Linked DNA regions of Homo sapiens: regions 2, 3 and 4 are each linked to region 1. Evidence: fine-mapped QTL for protein levels in blood plasma. Region 1 holds a variant in brackets. A gene starts in each other region. All regions are shown on their forward strands.

Region 1 (4,058 bases):
GCTGAAAGATAATTCAAGAGAAGGGTATGAAACTGAAGAATGCCTTGTCATCAAAGGGCAGGAAGTACCTTAGCTGGGTTATCCCAGTCTGGCACCTGGTCCTCAGTCTTCAAGTTCAGAAACTCAGGTCATCATTTCCTAGGAACTGGGTGGATTCTGGGAGATTGCCTCACACCAACCAAACTCACAAGAGATTCAGTAATAAGCCAGAGTGCCATTTTTTTTCCTTCACAATGGAAAATGAACCTGATACTGCAGTTTATCTTAACAGAGCACACCTACACTATGGGGAAGTCTACTTAAGAGACCAAATGATAGATCAGAGGGTTGTCTGGTAAACTTAGATTCCCAAGTCAGCTGGAAACATACCTAGAGATAATCTCTTAGGGTAGAATAGTTGCCTGTGAGAAGTTTGCCCAAAGTACTGAAGCTTTATAGTTTGAATGAGTCATTTGCTAACCTGAGTCTCCAAACACCTTACTCTCGCCCTCACTTACAGAAATTAGAGATACAGGTATGGAAGTTAGTCCCACATGATAGTAAGATGCCAAAGAATCTGATATGGAGAGATGTCTGAAAGCAGAACTCTCAGAAACAAATTTAGTAAGAGGGGAGGAGGCAAAGTGTCCAAATAAGAAATATTCAAAGTGAAGGGAAAACCAAGGGTACAGTATCTCGAGAGCCAAAAGAAGGGTTAAGAAGAGATGGTCCACTATCAAATGTGACAGAAATAGATAACACTTTCCAAGTGGAAAATCACTTGTGACCTTTGAGAGTAGTTTAACAGAGCAACGAGAGTAGATGTCTGATTGCTAAATCATCTCTAACTCATTCTTCAGAGTTAAGTTTGCAACACAGCCGGACGCGGTAGCTCACGCCTGTAATCCTAGCACTTTGGGAGGCCAAGGCTGGCGGATTGCCTGAGCTCAGGAGTTCGAGACCAGCCTGGGCAACACGGTGAAACCCCGTCTCTACTAAAATACAAAAGAAATTAGCTGGGTGTGGCGGCGTGCGCCTGTAGTCCCCGCTACTCGGGAGGCTGAGGCAGAATTGCTTAAACCCGGGAGGCAAAGGTTGCAATAAGCCAAGATCACACCACTGCACTCCAGCCTGGGCAACAGCGCGAGACTCTGTCTCTACCAAAAAAAAAAAAAAAAAAAGTTTGCAACACAAAGCAATAAGGTTTGTGATAACATCTTAATCAATGAACTGGTCTTTATTGAACAAATACCCTGCAGTCTGCACCACAGGAGTCACCTTTTGTTTATGAGAGGCAGGAGACTACAGTGCAAAGAACACTGGCTGGGAAGTCCAGGGCCCAAGCAGCAGAGTGTTCACTGGTCCTTAACTTTCAGAAGAACTGCAGAGAGCCTCCTTTCTCTCTGGATGAATGTGTTTCAACATTTCTAACTGAGAGTAGGGCTAACTGATCAGGTACCCCCACTGGCTCTAACCTCACAGCTCTAGCATTTGCAGTTCCCTCTGCCAGGAAATCTCTTCCCCCAGATACCCACACAGCTCACTCCCTGACCTCCTCCTCAGCTTTGCCCAAATGTCAAATTATCACCTTCTTGTTCAGAAGATCTTCCCTACTCCCCATTTCCTTGCACAACCCAGCCCCATTCCCTGCTTTACATTCCTCCATGACACTAATCACCATCTGATGTACTGTTTTCCT[G/C]ATCTGTTTATTGTCATTTTTCCCCACTAGACTTCAAGTTCCATGAAAGAGATTTATTTTGTCCTCTGTTCTGTGGTGTGCTTGGCATAAAGTAGATAAGCAAGCATCTGCTGAAGGAATGAATTAAATGCCAGCTGCAATCCCCAAATTACAGTAGATACACGGGAAAATTTTCTTTAGGAGGCTGAATTCTAACAGCATGATATCAAACAAGGATAGGGTCAATACAGAGGCCAGTGCTGTTTGAAAGTCATCATTTCAATGGTAACTCCTTCACTTGTGCTGGACTCGGTCTCCCCTCAGGAGACTCCTTTCCTGTTCAAAGTCAGTATTTTATATACTCAAAACCAACAACAAACTCCAGGTGTAACTTTATTCCACCTTCTCCAACTTCAGAGTTCCAACCTTAGAGGATAGAGCATTATGTGGAAGGAGGGTGAGGACTTGATATGAAAAAAGTGATGACATACCCCTGGTTCATTTCTGGGTTTCCTCCTAGGCCAATTCAAAACTTCCAAAATAAGGTCAAGTAACACAATAGGCTCACACTTGCATCACAAGCTGTTTAGAAAGTGTGCACAGATCTCTGACTCAGACCAGATGTCCTCCCCACCATGGGCAAGGGCTGGTGGGAAAGACACTCCCAGCCTTCGCCTTCATCCAATACTAATAAATAACCTACAGAAAGAGCAGCGCTGGAGGCTGGCCCTTGAGCCACCCACTGCTACCGTTGCGGAGCCAGGCCTGCCTCATAGCCCTCTGTCTTCATGTCATTGAGCCCTAGCTCCTCATTTTGGTCAAAGGTGCGCTTGTAACGCTCCACCTTCATCTCAGGATCATCTTCAGGCGCATACACATTCTGCAAGGTCAAGGAGAGACAATCAGTGCCGCTGTGCCACTCCCCCTCTCTGCAGGCAGCTTCCAATTCCCACCTTCCCAAGAACAGAATGAGTTTTGGGTTTTTTTCTTTTTATTGGCCTCCAATTTCCCATGGCTAGACTGAACTAGTGGGTAGCAACAGAGCCCACATGGGCCAGGGGTAGAAGACCCCAGCCCCAGAATCAGGGAACAATCCACCTATTTTGTTATATCTGCACCTTCTTATGAAAAGTATGACAAATGGTCTTAATCTTGGAAAGAACTTAGAAGAGTTTTGCCTGACCCATGGTAAGTATCCAATAAATGGTAAAGGTACATCAATCACCAGACTCTCTCCTCAGTCAACTTAAAGCCTATCAGTTTCCTATCTTGGCCTCCGGACAAGGTACCATTTCTCCTCAATCCATAATCAGATTTGCAAAATGAAAACTCCAGAACTGGGACAAGAGCTTGACTACAGAAAAAAAAGGGGCCTCAGAGTATCCTTTTTTTTTCCTTCTTTACATACACTTAAAAAAAAAATCCCCTCCCACACCCCCCTCTTTTCTCCCTTATGTATCTTCTAACTTCTGCCTCCTTGGTAAAAAGCAGTCCATTTAGAATCAAGTCTTTCAGTTTCTAGGGAAATGATACATATTCAAGGAAGATCAGAAAATGTATCTCTATGAAACATCAGGGAAGGTCTACTATACCTGCAAGTAACTGTTTCCTGCTGGATCATCCATAATAAAGTGGGCCTTCATGTTACCTTCGATGATCTAAAGGAGAGAGAGAACACAGCAAGTAAATTTTACATAACCCCTGGTAAAAAGAGGCTATGTCGGGGGAGGGGGGAGGGATAGCATTAGGAGATATACCTAATGTAAATGACTAGTTAATGGGTACAGCACACCAACATGGCACATGTATACATATGTAACAAACCTGCACGTTGTGCACATGTACCCTAGAACTTAAGTATAATAAATATATATATAAATAAAAAAAGAAATGAAATAAATGAAAGTAAAGAAAAATTTTTAAAAAAAGAGGCTATGCCTGCCAGACAAGAACCAACCCAATTTATATTACAGAATCCCCAAAAGTTTTAAGAATTGGTGAAATTAGGTAGCTCTGAAAGTAGAGGGGAAAGGTTCTAAAATAAGGACTGTTAGAAAAGCCAACATCAGCAAGCTGTGGACTAGGGGGTGCTGGCCCAGTTGAAGGTAGAGGGAAAGGAATCAAGAACAAGTAGGTTAAATGAATGTAAGCTTATGGGAAACAGAATACATACACACCCCAGCCCCCTTCCCACAGCTCTCAGAACACTGCCAGCCAAGCCTTTACCCTCAGGCCAGGAAATGGAGCAGCCACAGTCATTTAACCTCCTTGTTCTTGAGTCCTTTCCCTCTACCTTCAACTGGGCCAGCACCCCCTGGTCCACAGCTTGCTGATGTTGGCTTTTCTAACAGTCCTTATTTTAGATCCTTTCCCCTCTACTTTCAGAGCTACCTAATTTCAC
Region 2 (5,814 bases), not on the chromosome of region 1:
ATACTGCATTTCAACCATCTTAAAGCAGCCTCAGGCTACAACTTGGCATACCAGCTGTCGGTTCAGATGTATTATTCATTTATATTTTAAATAGTGTAACTTGGTCTAGACTTTGTAATTATAAAGCGGCCAACAGATTTGAGGTATTTTAGGGTGCTTTGACCTGTTCTAAATTAAAGGGAAAAAATCATTTTAAAGACAAGCAATTTGCAACAAGAACTAATGCTTCTGGCAACGTGAACAATCACAACTAAAAAACTAAGAGATTACTATGTAAAAAAAAATTAGAGCTTGCTTCTAAAGTCATAAAAGTCCCCAGGTTGTTTTCTAATTGGACTTAGATGAGGACATGTCATTCACTGCTGGTGACACCATAGACTTGGTTATAGGATACACCTGATTGCTTGTCCCTGTGTCACAAGCAGATGCCCTGCGAAGCCATAGTATGTTAAGGATGTGATGATGCAGTGTCGACGGGGACTGGGACCAACATGAATGTGGGACAGAATGTCCCCACAGAGCAAGCGCTTCTATTTTCTGAATGGGAACGTCAAGTCCGTCTTTGTCATGGATCTCGGCTACTTTGAAACCCAATGGTGTTTCCTTTGAGAAGCGGGCATTTCAATCCAAGTTTGACTATGCTTATCCACAAATAATTTGAATGAATATTTTTAGCAAATGACATTTGGTTTGGAATAAGGATTTCACAAATATTATCATTTTTAAACTATCAATCTTTTCCTTAATATATTAGCTGTATTTACTATCTCTGGCACTAAAACATAGACACTGTAATACCTGCAGCAGTAACTTTTTTCTTTGAAATATTAAGTTTTTTGTACATTGAATGGATGATTAGACAAAGGAACATAATAGGAATGATATATTCACCTTTCTTCATTCATCAACATCAAATTACCAATTTGACATTTTGCTATGCTTCAGTTTAACCGGTTGGCAGACTTTGGAAACCTTGCCATATATTTAGGTAGTATCTACTGATTATAACTCTCAATTGTTATATCCGTGCTTGCAGGAATATTTAAATATTAAAGTAAGCACTTCTTTTAAAAATTATACCACTGTTGAAAAGTTTCTTGTAAAAGCTTTTAGTCTTTCACAAGACTGAAAAAAAAATTCATTCCACCCAAAGTCCTAAGCGTTTTGCAATATCTCCTATTATGTTCCATTGAGGAGGATTTAGAGCAGGAGGTATCCTGCCACTTCAGGAGCTGATGGAAGAAAGAACAACCATAAACCACATAAAGAAGTGAGCGTTCCGTATCTAATAATATTACCAACAATAAATGACTTCTTCTGAAGAAAGAACTGGCTTTAAAAATCTCACTTATTTGTTTGTGAAAGTCTATCGAATTGTGAAAAAAAAAAGAATAGAGTTAATTGTTTGAATACAATTGCTGAGAAAGTAGAGATTTATGTTATTTTAGTATTAAAATCTTATTCAATAAGAAAATAATTTCCAGTTAATTTCCCCCCTCTTTAGGTAGTCTAAAGAGAGCCTGCAGTTTTGTAAGAACTACAAATTTCCACTAAAATTTAAAGGAAAGTATGGTAACAATAATAAGTAGGAAGTCTTACAGAAAGATTAACCTTAGACCTAAAAAAGAAGACATTATGTTCTATCCCCAAATGTGTTGGCATTGTAGTCCATATAAATCCTTTTTCAAACTGGTTAGCTCATTTTATGTAATAGGTCTTCAGTATGTATGGAAAAATACACCACTTAATCATTTACTCCATCAAAGATCTTTGTAAATTTGTTTTTTGTCTCTAGGAGCCTAATCTAAAAAGACAAATTAAAATTTTATTGCAGAGGGTAGCTATTTTAGATTTTATTACTATTTATCCTCAATACATAGTAAATAGTTATTAATGTATGGCTTCACTCAGATGCATCCAAAGAAAACCCCCCAAATAGATGACACTTGTTCTCTGCACCAAGTACGCTATGTTTTATTTACAAAGAGTTGCTTTAATGGACTTTGATTTTTTGATAGATGTCTGAAATTTGAATATTTGAAAGATGTTATTTAATTTGCTCTTTTGGAAAACCAGAGATTTTAATTGGTAAAAAGCAATTTCTGTTATAGGCTCCCTAATGGACACATTTCTGCTTACTTTAAAAGACGCCTTCTGTTCAAAGTAGTATACAGATCTATCAAGTCCAAGAAAAATATTTATTCTTCAAAATGTTACCAATTATTTTAAAATACAACTCTCATAACAGTTAAGTATTATAACAAGTGCATTGATTTGAATCTTTGTTTTTTTTCTGTTTTATATTTTTGCATATAATTATTTTTCCAACTCGCTTTGCGGCTTCGCTATATTAAAGTACACGTAAATGCATTTGATATAACCTTTTCCATCTCAGTTCCTCTCTGTGTACTATTAGTAATAAAGTCTAAGATGAAAGAACAACATTTTAATTTATAATATTTTGATCCCTTAAAAATACTTCACTGTCCGCCAAACAGGATTTACAATTTTATAATCATCTTACCTTCTGGTAGTGTGCTGTAGAACAGAGCAGGTGAAGAGAGAGCAAGCCCTCTTTGGGAACTTTTGATGTGCTCTGTGTCCTAAGCTCTGTACTTCTGCACCAAGGCGCACTGCTTTTATATACTCTCCAGCTCTGTTTAGCCTCACAGATATTACGCTGACAATATAAATTTCTCATCTGTAAATAATGAGTTTTTGTTACAAATGACTTCCCTCTCCCACTCACTTTGCTCATCTGCATTCTATGCTTATATTGGGTGAGAGACCTTAGAGACCTGGAAACTTTTTATGCACTCTTGTATCTTTTTTTTTTTTTTTTGGTTGGGAATGGAGAGAGCAGCTTGGAAATCCACCTTCTACTTTCAATCACGCATGAAAATCACTTAAGTTCTCTAAAGTGAATTTTGACGTTGAAGACAAAAGACCTTGAAATTACGTAGCCCATGGCCATCCCTGTTTTGTGCATGTCCTCATTTGAGGTTCTTACAAGTCTTTGGTTTGCTACCTAGCCATGATGAATTTACCTGAATATAACAATCACTTCAGTCATTCATTTATCTAAATAATGATCATTCATTCAACACATATGTATTAAAAATCCTCTCTTCCTCACAACGTGGAGTTTATTTATGTTATGTTTGTGGAAAATTTAAGGATATTGATTAAACCCCTATGTGTTCTGTTTTAATAAATGGAATTCAGGCAGAAAGGATGGAGCAAAATGAAGATTAAACATCCAAGATAGCTGATGCTAACAGGAAATTATCTGGTATTTTTTTCCTTCTAATATATATTTAAAATCTAATTTTACTGATAAGAGAGTGGGGTACTAAGTTACAAAAGAATGAGATATGAGGAAAACTGTTGAGATGAGATGCATATTTTCACGTTTCCTGAGTTTTGTGACTGGACACACAGGCTTTAATGATCTGTGACATTTAGCAGAAATGATTCTGGTCACTGTAGAGAAATAGAAAAATGGTAAATAATCTGGAAAGACAGCATAAGAAGTAGTGTTGGCATAATTTGATTTTAGTTTTGCTGTTATTGACCAGCTGTGTGACCTTGGTCAAGTCACGCATTCTCTTTGTGTCTCTGCCTCCTTATTTGTAAAATGAGAGGGGTTGGTAAATGTCTTTTCTAAAATAAAAATTTTATTCCATATTGCAAACTCATCACAACATTTCCTAACTAGATTCCAATATTCTAATATAACCAACCGCATGATGTCACTGATGACTTGTATGGAGGTAAATCATTGAGGCAACTGGAGAAATATTCCAAATGAACTTAACTGTTCAATTTGTGCATGAGACCAACGTTTGAATGTAGAGCTACTTGAAGGCCACAGAGATCACTTTCAAGTCAGACTGGAAGACATCATTGAGGGGTTTTTGTGCTGGTGATTATTGGGTGCTAGAAAGCCTTGCTTTGCAAAGTGTGGTCTAAGGACCAGCATCATCTGGGAGCTTGCTAGAAATGCAGAATCTCGTGCCTATCAGAATCTGTATTTTAACAAAATCCTAAGGAAATCTGTGTTCATATTAAAATTTGAGAAGCACAGCTGCATAAAATATCTGCCTCACTTTATCTCCTCATTGGTACTGCTGGTGTCTTGATCTGAGACCTGCTTCTTGGCACTCTACCAGCAGAGGGGGTGAAAGAGCAGAGAAAGGTGTCAAGCCTTAGGTCGGTCTAGAGAGTAATACTTATAAATACGGTAATAGCTTGAAAGAGTGGATTGATTTAATGTATGATTACATTGTCTTTCTCTCTGGCTACAATCTTCACACAACTATTCGCTATATTTTTAATCGTTTTGGCAGATTCAGTTCTACTTTTCCCATTGTCTATTTGTCTATTTGAGCAGATGTTTCTTTCTGTCTCTCTGTCTCTGTCTCTCTCTTTCCTTTTCAGACTCTACTTGTTTGTGGAGCAGCCCTAAGAAGGAAGATCTGCAGATCATATATATAAAATCTTCAACATAGCACTGGCCTTTCAGTAATTATCCTCTCCCAATATTTAACTACCAAACATTTTTCTTTCCCTCCACTCTACTTGCTTCCATTATTCTAGAAGTGACTATCCCAAGTTGTTTCAGAAAATTTCCTGTGACTTTATCTCCAGCCCACTGACACTGATTCTTGGGGCTCCCAGTACCATAAGGGTAAGCATTCTCAGGATGTATAAGCAATAAGAACCCCACTGCATTGTGTGCTGCTCTCCTCTCTAGGAGGGGCAAGTCAGGCTTCTTCATGGACACCGAATTGTCAGAAATTAAGACAGAACTCAAGTGCAATTTGGACTTGCAGATCTTCTTCCTATCACTGTTCTGGCATGAGCCTCTACTTGGCCTATTCCCATCAATACAGTTATTCAGTGATTTAGATGTGAGGCAAGGAAAGTGGTAGCCCTGTATGTCTATGACTAGTGACATATATGATTTCTTTATGATGTTTAGTCCTAAGGACAATTTCCACAGATTTACAACCTGTGCAGCTGCATGAAGCTGCATGCAGGACCTCATGCTTGCCTTAATGCTTTTACCACCTCAAAATTCTTAAAAATTTACACAAAACCATGCATTGTGGGGTTATTGTGTGTTTATTTTCTGTAGCTGCTCGGAATACTTAGGAATAGTTGAGAATGGCAAAGATCCAGGTTCACAGTGCGCTGCGATGGGAAGTCTATGGGTAGGGAGAACTCTCAGGCGTTGCTGATGGGAGTACAAAATATTAACTCCTTTGAAAGGTGGTTTGGTAATACTTATCGAAGTGACTAATACCTATAGTTCTTGGTCCAGTAAGGCTAAAGCACTATTCTGAACATTTATCCCACATATATTGCTATGTAGATATGTAATGATGTAGGTACAAGGTTGAGTAGAAGAGTAACAGGTGGGAACTAATCCAAGGGGCCAGCAATAGAGCACTGTTTAGAAAAAAAAAAAAAATGAAGACGCTGTCTATTTACCAGTAGGGAAAGACTCCAAGTTATGTTGTTAGTTGAAAACAAGAAAGTGCAGAATGGGTATGTAGTAGGCTACCTTTTGTTTTAGAAGGGAGAGGGGCAGAAATACGTGTTTATTTTTCATAATTGCGTCAAAAAATTAAAATAGACAAGAAGCTGATGAAAGTGCTTACCTGTAGGAGGCAGTGTGGATAAGTGGGGTGCATGTGGACAGGGACAGGATGCAAAGAATACTTCTTTTATATACCTGCTATGTGGTTTGGATTGTTTGACCATTTGATAGAATTACCCATTCAAAACAAACCAAAAAATGTAATTTAA
Region 3 (4,718 bases), not on the chromosome of region 1:
CCACTCTTTATCATCTGAGAAATCAATGATCACTATGAATTTCCATTGGTTAAGAAAACAATTTTAGTTCTAATCATGGGTAAGTACACCTTTATCAAATAGTATGTCATCTACAAAGAAACAGTCATATTTTAACCAATCAACTTGCTCCTCCCCAAAGTAATGCATTTGTTTATTTTTATTAAAAATACTGAGACAAAGATACATCGGTTTAGTATTAGAATTCAAACTAGGGCTAGCTAAGAATAAAAACTACCTATCAAGTCACTATGAAATAGTAAAGAAATCAATATTTCTCTAAATTCAGTGCAATTCAACAGCCACTTTATTGAATACTATATGTGTTATGCTAGGTGTTGGGAGAGAAAGGATTAAAACACTTGGTTTATGGAGCTAATAATAATCCAGTGGATGTAGAAAACAGTAGGGTAGCTAACAGATATAGACAGTATAATGGTAAAGAAGAAAAATCATTAACTGGATAGACAATCTAGGCAGACCAAACAGCACGTGCAAAAGCAGAGTTGCTTAGTAACACAGTATATTCACAGAACTCCAGTGTTAATTATGAAAACAAATTGCAGACCAACAACGTTTCACTGGCACATCTGATTTTTTTGTTTGAGAAAGAGCACCCTAGCTTCTGGGAGCTCATGTGGTACTACCAGCTAGGCTTTGGTGTTGCTAGGAGCAGACCTGGCACTCATAGCCACGCCCTAATGTTCTCCTGTTGAACACAATTTCACAAAAGTTCAACCTCAAATAAGGCCACTCTGTAATCATGTCTGAACAAGGACAAAAAAATAAAAATGTCAAACCACAAAATGACCAAGTATCTCCATCCTGGCTAAATGAATGACTGTTCCTTCTCTGCAGCTTTAACCTCATTCTAGTCTCTCATTTAAGACTTAGTAAGATACCCAATCACAGAATTACCCCAGCTTCCCGAACACATCCAATCCACAGTAAAGCTCTGCTTCCCTTACCTTCCCCTAAGACCACCTGACACGAGCCCAAATCCTTCCTAACTCTTATTCAAACGGCCCATGGTTCCCATGAATTCCAGTGCGTTTTCCCTCACTGCAATGAGGGATAAACCCAACCTGTCAAATCACAGGTGTATTCCTGATGGATTTTGGCTGGAGGGCAGTGACAAATTTTACTTTTCATGGTGAAATTAATCCCTAAAAATATCAACCAAAAGGGTTGAATTCAAGACTTTAAAATTTCCTTTTCCTCCTTTATATGAAGCGTTTTAAAGATCTGCTTGTGGGCATACCATAGCAACGTAATTATATTTTCGGATAACTTGACGAATTTTCTTCATCTCTTCATCCAAGTTGCAAGCCCAAACTTCACAAATTCTTTGGCTATGATCTACAGTTGCCGCTGGCATAGTGAGGGCACAAGGGAGTCTAGATGCCAAGCATCAAAATGTTATACTTGATTGAAGATTTGTTTCATAAAATATTTTATCCTTTATTTATGTACCTGTCAAAATAAAAAAACAATATGAAGACCAGATATATCAAATCTGAATCACAGAATAATTGATCCAGCAGGAACCTAAGAAGTTATTTATTCAAAGTTCTTGACTCATAAAAAAAAAAAATCAAAGTTTAGAAAGTAACTTAAGGTCACACAGCTAGTCTATAGGAAAAAAAGGACTACAGTACAGATTTCCTGGTCCTAATTTCAGTTATTTTAAAATAGCTTTTTTACACATACATACTAATCATATTTTATAACTTTCCACTAATTATTTATCTGAGTTCAACTACTCTGCATAAAACTTTATAAAGCCATCCATTTCCAGACAAAAAATGAAAAATTACTTATTTACATGTGACAAGATCAGATGTTACCATGGCAAAGATGGTGTTTATTTTTATTCCTCATTAATAAAACAACCAAAATCCGACTTGATAACAAGATCTACTTTACCGGCGTTTATTCTAACTAGACTAGAGGGGTCAAAAATGTTTGTAAATGCTCTGAGAAAAAAGTAACGGCCATGAAAATTATCTGAATGTTCGCAGTTGCAGAACGGAAAAAGAACACAATAGAACGTCTAAAACTTAGAGCATATTGCATGGTTACCAAAGATAGATGTCACATTTCTGGTCTATAAACAGAGTTCCTGTTGATTCTTGGGCAGGGAAATTTCAAATCCTTCTGCATTTTTCATACAAATTGGAAAAAAAAAAAACAAGAGTAAAAAGAGGGTCTTATGACTGTCTTCTAAACTCTGAAGAGTCACAAATGTAACTTCCAATTCTCCAAGTAGAGAAACTAAAGGAGATCCAGGACACCCCTCCTTTATAACTCTCCCACCCCGATAGGCACACACACACACATAAGCACAAAAACACAAAGACTTGGAAAGACCCTGTAGTCTAACATTGTTTTCCTCCACCTCTCTCTCTACTGCAGTCCCAGAAGCCCCGAAGAGACACCAAAGGCCTTCTCATTACTGGAGAAAGCATCTCCGTACTGCAGTTTCCCAGAGAAACGAGAGGACGGCACCGAGGTATTCAAGCCATAGATAACTCTCTTCCCTGGCAAAGCGCCAGTGCGAAGGTGCTGATAACACTGACTGGAGCTACACTGACTCCCAAGCACTGCCGCGTGAAACAATACGAAGAGGTGAGGATCTAGGCCACCGCCCTCCACTCCCAATTTCCGTCCCACTGCGAAGCCCCAGGTACAAAGCCTTTGCGTCATCACTACGCGCCAACCCCTTGACAAACCCCCAGCCCCAGTTACCCAGCCCCCAACCCGCCGCCAGGCTCCTTCCTCCGCCAGCCGCACTCCAGCTGGCGCCATCGCGCACCCTCTCAGGTTCATCGTCCCCGCCCCCTTTCTACTTCCCTAACCCGCCCCTCCCCCCGTAAGGCTGCAGCGGATGCAAGATCTACTTGTGTCGCTGAGCTCGCGCTCCTCCTCCTCCTCCTCGCCATAGAGACAGCACTCGGCGGCGGTGGCGGTGGCGGTGGCGGTAGCGGCGGCGGCAGCGGGTGCCCCATAGACACCTCTCGCCCAGCGAAGGGAAAGGCGAGCAGGAGCTGCGCCGCACCGTGCTGCGCCGTCGCTTTTCGCACGTCCTGACGGGGGCGCTAGATGATGACGCGACACGCAGAGGGGGCGGAGAGCGCCCCCGGGGGCGGGGCACGCAAGTGACGGCGGCGCGGGTGGTGGAGCGCTGGGCGGCCAGGCTCCCTGGCTGGCCGGTTTGGGCGTCTGGGCCGTGAAGGTGGGACCTCCTGTTCCGGGCCGCAAGTTTCCCTCTCCAGCCGCCCGCCGTTCGTAGCATGTCCCCCAGAACTCGGGGAGCGCAGGCAGGACAGGCTTAGAGAAGACGCGGTCCCCAGCGCTTGGGCCACGGACGTCCCACCCCGCTCCTCTGTCGCTGGAGAACCGCCGGGCCGAGCCACTGGGAGAAGCAGGCCAGAGCCTTCCAGGGCCTCCGGCCCGTGGACCCGAGGAGGATGAGCTGGCTTTTTCCCCTGACCAAGAGCGCCTCCTCCTCCGCGGCTGGGTCCCCCGGTGGCCTCACCAGCCTCCAGCAGCAGAAGCAGCGCCTGATCGAGTCCCTCCGGAACTCACACTCCAGGTGACTGGTCGCTGCCTCTCCACCGGAGGAAAAAGTAGGGTGGGAGGGCGGGCTTGTCCTAACCACCCTCACAGCGCCTCAGTCTGCTCCCCACCAGCTCCTCATGTGGTTTACCTCCCTTGGTTGTGGGTCACACGCTTGCTCTGCCACTCCTGCCCCCTTTTACTGTTTTCCTCCGGACCCTCCCTGCCTCCTGCCGCACCACTGCTCAGCGCTTCTAACTCGGATTTCCTCATCCCTCCTGACACATAGCTGCTGACTGTAATCTCTCAATCTCTCTCATAGTCTATTTCCAGTATCCCTTGCTGCCCAGGCTTCGCCACTGATCTTTCCCTTTGCCCACCTGATTGCCGCGTCAGCAGAATTGTTAAAATACAATTGTGAAGAGTAATCTCCAGGTTTCACAAAGAATGGAAAATAGAACTGTTGCAACATCAAAGGAAAGGGAAGCCAGAGTTTTCATCAGTGAATGCTTCTCGTCTGAGAGTCACTTATCACGTAGTCAGTCTTCTTGAGTCTCTAAGATTTACCCTGTTGGAGCAGTCTCTCCCCATCTCACAGCGACCAGTGCATGTACATTTCTCACTTCTTTCATAGTCTTGTCCCCACGCTCAAGAATTACTTTATGTTCATCTTGATTGTTCTGTTGTCTTCCTGTGAGTTTTTCATTTTATCATGGTCAGTTTAGAAATATTTTTACAATTCATATTATTTCAACTTTTACTGTAAATTGGTTTGCTGCAGCCTTTTACATTGCAAATGTCTATGGTCTCTAATGGTTTTCAAAAATTAGAACTGCTTCTTTATATTTTATGCATTTTGCAAGTATATTTACTTAACAGTTTCACACTATTTTAAATAAAGATGACAACATTGTTAAGTCCCTAACCCCTTTTTTTTTTTTTTTTTTTGCCGGGGGTACGGCTCTCCTGTTGCCCAGGCTGGAGCGCAGTGGCGCGATCTCGGTTCACTGCAACCTCCGTCTCCCGGATTCAAGCAATCATCCTCCCTCAGCTCCCCACACCCCTCCGAGTAGCTGGGATTACAGGTGCGCGCCACCATGCGCGGCTAATATTTTGTATTTTTAGTAGAGACGGGGTTTCAC
Region 4 (5,814 bases), not on the chromosome of region 1:
TGCCCCTTTCTTTTTCATGCACTGCATGAAAAAGACTCTGTCCGAGGGCGCCCCGGCCCACCCGACCACCCCAGCCTGGGAGCCGCGCGCCCTGGAGGGGTTCTATAGCTGCAGTGGCCGCAAGGTCCGCTCCCCCAGGTGAGGGGGAGGGGGGAGGGGCGCCCCGCCCCGAGAGGCAAGGCAGGTGGGGGAGGGGCGCCAGGGGTTTCGGAGTCTTTGTCCCTGGGGAGGGGGGAGGGGCGTTTAACCCTTGGGAGCCCCGAAGGACCCTATCACCTCGGAGGCTTGGGCGCGGACCGGCCGACCCCCTCAGGGACTCGCCCATCCAGGTGGCCGCAGCCCGAGTTCGCACGCACCCCTACCCACGCCGCCACCACCCTGCACCCGGCCCCAAGAGGCGTCTCTCCAACACGCACACTAGCCCCGGACTCACCTGCGAAGGAGATAAGGGAAATTCCTAGGCCGAGTGTCGGGACAGGGGCGGAGGCGGGGGTCTTAAAGAAGCGGTGACGTCACTGGACCACCGCCCCGGAGGAGGGGCAGAGACCCTGTCCCTGACGGCAGCGGGCGTGCGAATCCCAGGCTTGTCAGAGGGGGGCGCTGGAGGCTGGGGTCGCTGGGCCCGCCTCGGGCTGGCAGACGTCCAGACTCACCCAGGGTGAGGGCGCCAGGCTTAGGGTAGAACAGAGCTTGAGACTCCGCTTCACCACTTAAGCAGCGCGGTGACATGGGGAACTCACCTAACCTTCCCGAGCCTTCGTTTCCTACTCTGCAAAATGGAGATAACAAGTCTGCATTTTATTATGTAACTACGTCCTAAGGTACAAATTAAAGGGCATACTATTGGTATTATTTTAGAGAAATATTTTCACTGTGTCACCCAGGCTGGAGTGCAGTGGTGCGATCACGGCTCACTGCAGTCTCGACCTTCTGGGCTCAAGCGATCCTCCCGCCTCAGCCTCCTGAGTAGCTGGGACTACAGGCAGCACACGCCACCGTGCCCAGCTAATTTATGTTTTGTTTTGTATAGACAGGGTCTTGTTATATTGCCCAGGCGTCTCGAACTCCCGGACTCAAGCGATCCGCCCGCCTTGGCCTCGCACTGCGCTGGGATTACCGGCTTAAGCCACCGCGCCCGGCCAGATAATATTATTTTTATGTTGCTGGTTTTTTGTTGTTGTTGTTGTTTGTTTTTGAGATGGAGTCTCGCTCTCTCGCCAAGGCTGGAGTGTGGTGGCGCGATCTTGGCTCACTGCAAGCTCTGCCTTCCGGGTTCACGCCATTCACCTGCCTCAGCCTCCAGAGTAGCTGGGACTACTACAGGTGCCCGCCACCACCCCCGACTAATTTTTTTGTATTTTTAGTAGAGACGGGGTTTCACCGTGTTAGCCAGGATGGCCTCGATTTCCTGACCTCGTGATCTGCCCGCCTCGGCCTCCCAATGTGCTGGGATTACAGGCGTGAGCCACCGCGCCCGGCCTGTTTTGTTTTTTGAGATGGAGGCCCTCTCTGTCGCCCAGTCTGGAGTGCAATGGCGCTATCTCGACTGACTGCAACCTCCGTCTCCCAGGTTCCAGAAATTCTCCTGCCTCAGTCTCCCGAGTAGCTGAGATTACAGGCGCCCACTACCACGCCCGGCTAACTTCTTTCTTTTTTTTATTTTTAGTAAAGACGGGGGTTCACCAAGTTGGCCAGGCTGGTCTCGAGCTCCTGACCTCAGGTTTAATTGTTATACCCCCCGGGCCCTTAACAAAGCTGTAGTGGCCAGGCTAACCTGGGCAACATAGTAAGACCCTGGTCTCTACAAAAAATACAAAAATTAGCCGGACGTGGTGGGGCAGGGCCTGTGGTCCCAGCTACTTGGGAGGCTGAGGTGGGAGGCTCACCTGAGCCCAGAGAGCCGTGATCGTACCACTGCACTCCAGGCTGAGCAAGAGTGAGACGCAATCTCAAGGGGAGGTGGGGGGAAGGAAGCTGCAGTGATCTCTGCATGGATTGGTCGTGTGTCTGATTTCTTTTTATTGTTTGTTTGTTTGTTTATTTATTTATTTATTTATTTATTTATTTATTTGAGACGGACTCTCACTCTGTCGCCCAGGCTGGAGTGTAGTGGCGCGATCTCGGCTCACTGCAACTTCTGCCTCCCGGGTTCAAGAGATTCTCCTGCCTCAGCCTCCTGAGTAGCTCGGATTGCAGGCGCGCGCCACCACGCCCGGCTAATTTTTGTATTTCGAGTAGAGACGGCGTTTCACCACGTTGGTCAGGCTGCTCTCGAACTCCTGACCTCGTAATCCGCCTGCCTCAGACTCCCAAACTGATGGGATTAAAGGCGTGAGCCACCGCGTCCGGCCGTTCGTGTCTGATTTCTATATGTGCTGCCGAAGCGAGCACTCGTGTCTAATTTTTGATTTCCCCACACCACGCACGCTGGACTAGATCACCGGCTGGGCAAGGAAGGGGGTCTGCGTCCCTGCGGGGTCCTGGCAGCTCCCGCGCCAGGACTTTGTTGAATGAATGACTGAACTGAGCGGGCGCCGCGGGGCGGGGCGTCCCGAAGCGGACCTCAAGGCGGGCGGAGGCGAGAGCTCCGCCCCGGAAGGCGGGGGCGGGGGCGGGGCGGCGGCCGTGGGTCCCTGCCGGCCGGCGGCGGGCGCAGACAGCGGCGGGCGCAGGACGTGCACTATGGCTCGGGGCTCGCTGCGCCGGTTGCTGCGGCTCCTCGTGCTGGGGCTCTGGCTGGCGTTGCTGCGCTCCGTGGCCGGGGAGCAAGCGCCAGGTACGCGGGACTCCGGGGTCGGGGAACCCCGGGCCGGGGCTCGGGAGCCGGACTGGGTGTCTGGAGAACAGCGCCGAACTGGGGGAACAGGCGGATGTGGGGATCTGGGGTCAGGTGGCCTTCAAACAGCTCGCTCCCGGCTGTGGGAAGTTCCATCACTCTCCAAGCTTCATTCACAATCCGGGCCTCAGTTTCTCCCACCGTCCAATTGGGGTTGGGGGGGGTCTTCAGTTCCACAAGTCCGAAGTACTTCGAATGGAGAGAGAAAGTGAGTGAGGGCGGGATGTTTAGTCTAGGAAGGGGCACGCCCCCAGCCTGGTCCGTACAGGGTCTAACTAGCCCCAGTGATCGACGAGTTGGGGAGGCCGTCGAGAGGCACTAGGGTCTGTGCCCTCTATACCATGTGGGGTGCCCCCTTCCATCCGGTGACTTCAGTGCCCAGCTATGCGGGGGGAGGGACTGGGGTCGGGCCCGGTGCCCAGGAGTGAGTCACCCGCCGGCGGCAGGGGGGTTGTGGGGACCTGACCCCCCCCACCCCCAGCGTCCCGCGCTACGCCCTCCCTCCCGGAGCTGCCGTGTCCCGGTCGGGCCGTGCGGTCACCTGTGAGGAATGCGCGGGGAGGGCGCCGGTGACTCACGTTATTCGAGCCGGCCGACCCTGACCTCAGACCCCAGAATAGCCGAGTCCCGCCCCCAGCCTCTGACCCGAGGCCCCCTCCCCAGGCACCGCCCCCTGCTCCCGCGGCAGCTCCTGGAGCGCGGACCTGGACAAGTGCATGGACTGCGCGTCTTGCAGGGCGCGACCGCACAGCGACTTCTGCCTGGGCTGTGAGTGGGGGGCAGGGCCAGTGGCCAGCGGACCCCAGACTGGGAGGGAGGGTGGCTGGTGCGCAGAGCGGGGCCGAGAGCTTTGCATCTGGGAAATCATTCGGGAGGAGGTGGGAGCTGGGAGGGGGCTCCGGTCAGGGAGGAGGCCACGTTTGGGAGAAGGCAGAAGGCTCAGTCTTAGGGGGCGGGGCTGGCCTGGAGAGGGGCGAGGTCTGACTCCGAGTCCCGCCCCCAGGCGCTGCAGCACCTCCTGCCCCCTTCCGGCTGCTTTGGCCCATCCTTGGGGGCGCTCTGAGCCTGACCTTCGTGCTGGGGCTGCTTTCTGGCTTTTTGGTCTGGAGACGATGCCGCAGGAGAGAGAAGTTCACCAGTAAGTGTGCCCTGGCCTGCCCAGCCCTGTCAGCACTCGACCTTTTCTCTGCTGCTGACGACCCCACCTCTTATCTTGCAGCCCCCATAGAGGAGACCGGCGGAGAGGGCTGCCCAGCTGTGGCGCTGATCCAGTGACAATGTGCCCCCTGCCAGCCGGGGCTCGCCCACTCATCATTCATTCATCCATTCTAGAGCCAGTCTCTGCCTCCCAGACGCGGCGGGAGCCAAGCTCCTCCAACCACAAGGGGGGTGGGGGGCGGTGAATCACCTCTGAGGCCTGGGCCCAGGGTTCAGGGGAACCTTCCAAGGTGTCTGGTTGCCCTGCCTCTGGCTCCAGAACAGAAAGGGAGCCTCACGCTGGCTCACACAAAACAGCTGACACTGACTAAGGAACTGCAGCATTTGCACAGGGGAGGGGGGTGCCCTCCTTCCTAGAGGCCCTGGGGGCCAGGCTGACTTGGGGGGCAGACTTGACACTAGGCCCCACTCACTCAGATGTCCTGAAATTCCACCACGGGGGTCACCCTGGGGGGTTAGGGACCTATTTTTAACACTAGGGGGCTGGCCCACTAGGAGGGCTGGCCCTAAGATACAGACCCCCCCAACTCCCCAAAGCGGGGAGGAGATATTTATTTTGGGGAGAGTTTGGAGGGGAGGGAGAATTTATTAATAAAAGAATCTTTAACTTTAAATGGTTTGGAGAGGCAGTGATCCCCGACTGACTCCCCTGAGCTGGAGGGAGGGAGTGAGTCAGCCAGCCGCGGGGGCGGGGGTGAGGCTCTGACTCACACATTCTCAATGCCTGGAACTCAGCCGGCAAGGACCTGGCTGGCCCTAACAGTTTTCCAGGGAAGATCTTGAGGAGAAACCCCAGCATCCCGCGCCTCTGCCCTCTCCACCATCCCCAAAAGCCCCAGGTTCCAGACTGAAGCCTTCCTTTGCTCAGCAATCTTTATTCAGTTCTTCTTGGGGGTGGGATGCCTCCCTTCCCATGCTCCCACCCCTCCCATCCCAGAACTCCGTTGGGCTCAGTGTCCTCTGTTGAGGGAAGGTCTTGGTGCCCAGATGCCTACTCTGCAGGAGAGGGAGGAACCTTGTCCCTTTGCGGGAGTCGCTGGTCTCTTCTGTTGTGGGGAAGAAGGAAGGTGGGAGGGGCACTGTCCACCAGCACTCAGAGCTCCATTATGTCCCCAGCTGGGGTTGCAGGGTAGGGGGGACTGGGGGTGTCCCCCAGCCTCAGCAGACGGAGGGCCTCAGGGATGAGGCTGCCAGGATAGCGCCAGAGAAGCAGCTCAGAGCAAGGGCTCCTAGAAGAGGAAATGACTGTCAGGGCATGGAGCTGAGGCTGGCCTAGCTGAGCACCTCCCACCAGGTCCAGGTCCCCAGGGGCTCCTGGGTTCCCAGCACTTTCCAAAGAGCCAAGATGGGAAACAACCCAGAGGTCAGCTAGAGCTAAAAATGGCACGATGAGGCAGGGCCTGAGGTCAGCTGTGAGGACCGCCTGTGATTCTGCAGAAGGCCTGGCCAGTGGAGGAACCTACCTGAGTGGGGGCAGGGCTGGGGAGAAGGTCATGGGGGGGCTGCAGTAGGGGTGGTCATTGTGCAGGCTGAGTTGAGAGAAGTGGGTGGCCATGTTCTCCTCAGACAGAAACTGCTTGCGCAGAGGCTCCCTGGGGAGAGATGGCAGAGAGGCAGGCTGGGATACTGACACAGGAGGCAGCCTGTTGGGGACCAGAGGTGACAGAGATCTTGTTGGGAGTCCCTCCCTGCCCCCAAACTCACTGCTCCTCCTCCAGGCGCCGCTTGGTGCTCATGGGCACAGCTCCTCGGAGAGGGGA

Which allele goes with the higher level. Alleles are on the strand shown, and positions count from the first base shown. The strength of an association depends on the size of the effect and on how common the allele is.
For the plasma level of the protein whose gene starts at base 2,614 in region 2, allele G in region 1 goes with a higher level than allele C (weak association).
With allele G in place of C in region 1, the plasma level of the protein whose gene starts at base 3,202 in region 3 is higher (weak association).
For the plasma level of the protein whose gene starts at base 2,653 in region 4, allele G in region 1 goes with a higher level than allele C (weak association).

Evidence for each region. PIP is the posterior inclusion probability: the model's chance that the variant is causal. The UK Biobank Pharma Proteomics Project read protein levels with antibody pairs (Olink). The fine-mapping took linkage between variants from a reference panel, not from the people measured, so its PIPs are less certain.
Region 2: GCG starts here. The variant in region 1 is fine-mapped to the plasma level of the GCG protein (UK Biobank, PIP 0.95).
Region 3: VPS37A starts here. The variant in region 1 is fine-mapped to the plasma level of the VPS37A protein (UK Biobank, PIP 0.98).
Region 4: TNFRSF12A starts here. The variant in region 1 is fine-mapped to the plasma level of the TNFRSF12A protein (UK Biobank, PIP 0.98).

The regions. Positions count from the first base shown.
Region 1 is chr11:116,776,523-116,780,580 of GRCh38, forward strand. ZPR1 (ZPR1 zinc finger) reads right to left here. Exons shown (of 14, transcript NM_003904.5): 13 at 3,250-3,315; 14 at 1-2,537. The coding sequence ends at 2,403. Among named protein-coding and RNA genes, the nearest start is that of BUD13-DT, 5.1 kb to the left of the region's middle. The variant G/C (reference allele first, on the strand shown) is at 1,679.
Region 2 is chr2:162,149,634-162,155,447 of GRCh38, forward strand. It overlaps GCG (glucagon), which reads right to left and starts at 2,614. Exons shown (of 6, transcript NM_002054.5): 1 at 2,525-2,614. The region is part of intron 1 of LOC101929532 (a long non-coding RNA gene); the gene reads left to right. RefSeq lists a promoter at 2,502-4,223.
Region 3 is chr8:17,243,757-17,248,474 of GRCh38, forward strand. VPS37A (VPS37A subunit of ESCRT-I) reads left to right here and starts at 3,202. Exons shown (of 12, transcript NM_152415.3): 1 at 3,202-3,613. The coding sequence starts at 3,489. CNOT7 (CCR4-NOT transcription complex subunit 7) reads right to left here and starts at 3,101. Exons shown (of 7, transcript NM_013354.7): 1 at 2,919-3,101; 2 at 1,280-1,491. The coding sequence starts at 1,396. RefSeq lists an enhancer at 2,850-3,698.
Region 4 is chr16:3,017,716-3,023,529 of GRCh38, forward strand. It overlaps TNFRSF12A (TNF receptor superfamily member 12A), which reads left to right and starts at 2,653. Exons shown (of 4, transcript NM_016639.3): 1 at 2,653-2,776; 2 at 3,500-3,604; 3 at 3,840-3,974; 4 at 4,056-4,668. The coding sequence starts at 2,683. The coding sequence ends at 4,111. HCFC1R1 (host cell factor C1 regulator 1) reads right to left here. Exons shown (of 4, transcript NM_017885.4): 2 at 5,759-5,814; 3 at 5,518-5,646; 4 at 4,910-5,283. The coding sequence ends at 5,148. It overlaps CLDN6 (claudin 6), which reads right to left and starts at 468. Exons shown (of 2, transcript NM_021195.5): 1 at 434-468. RefSeq lists enhancers at 1-469, 1,067-1,662, 2,431-3,075, 2,982-4,181, 3,721-4,364 and 2 more and silencers at 2,502-2,721, 3,572-3,741.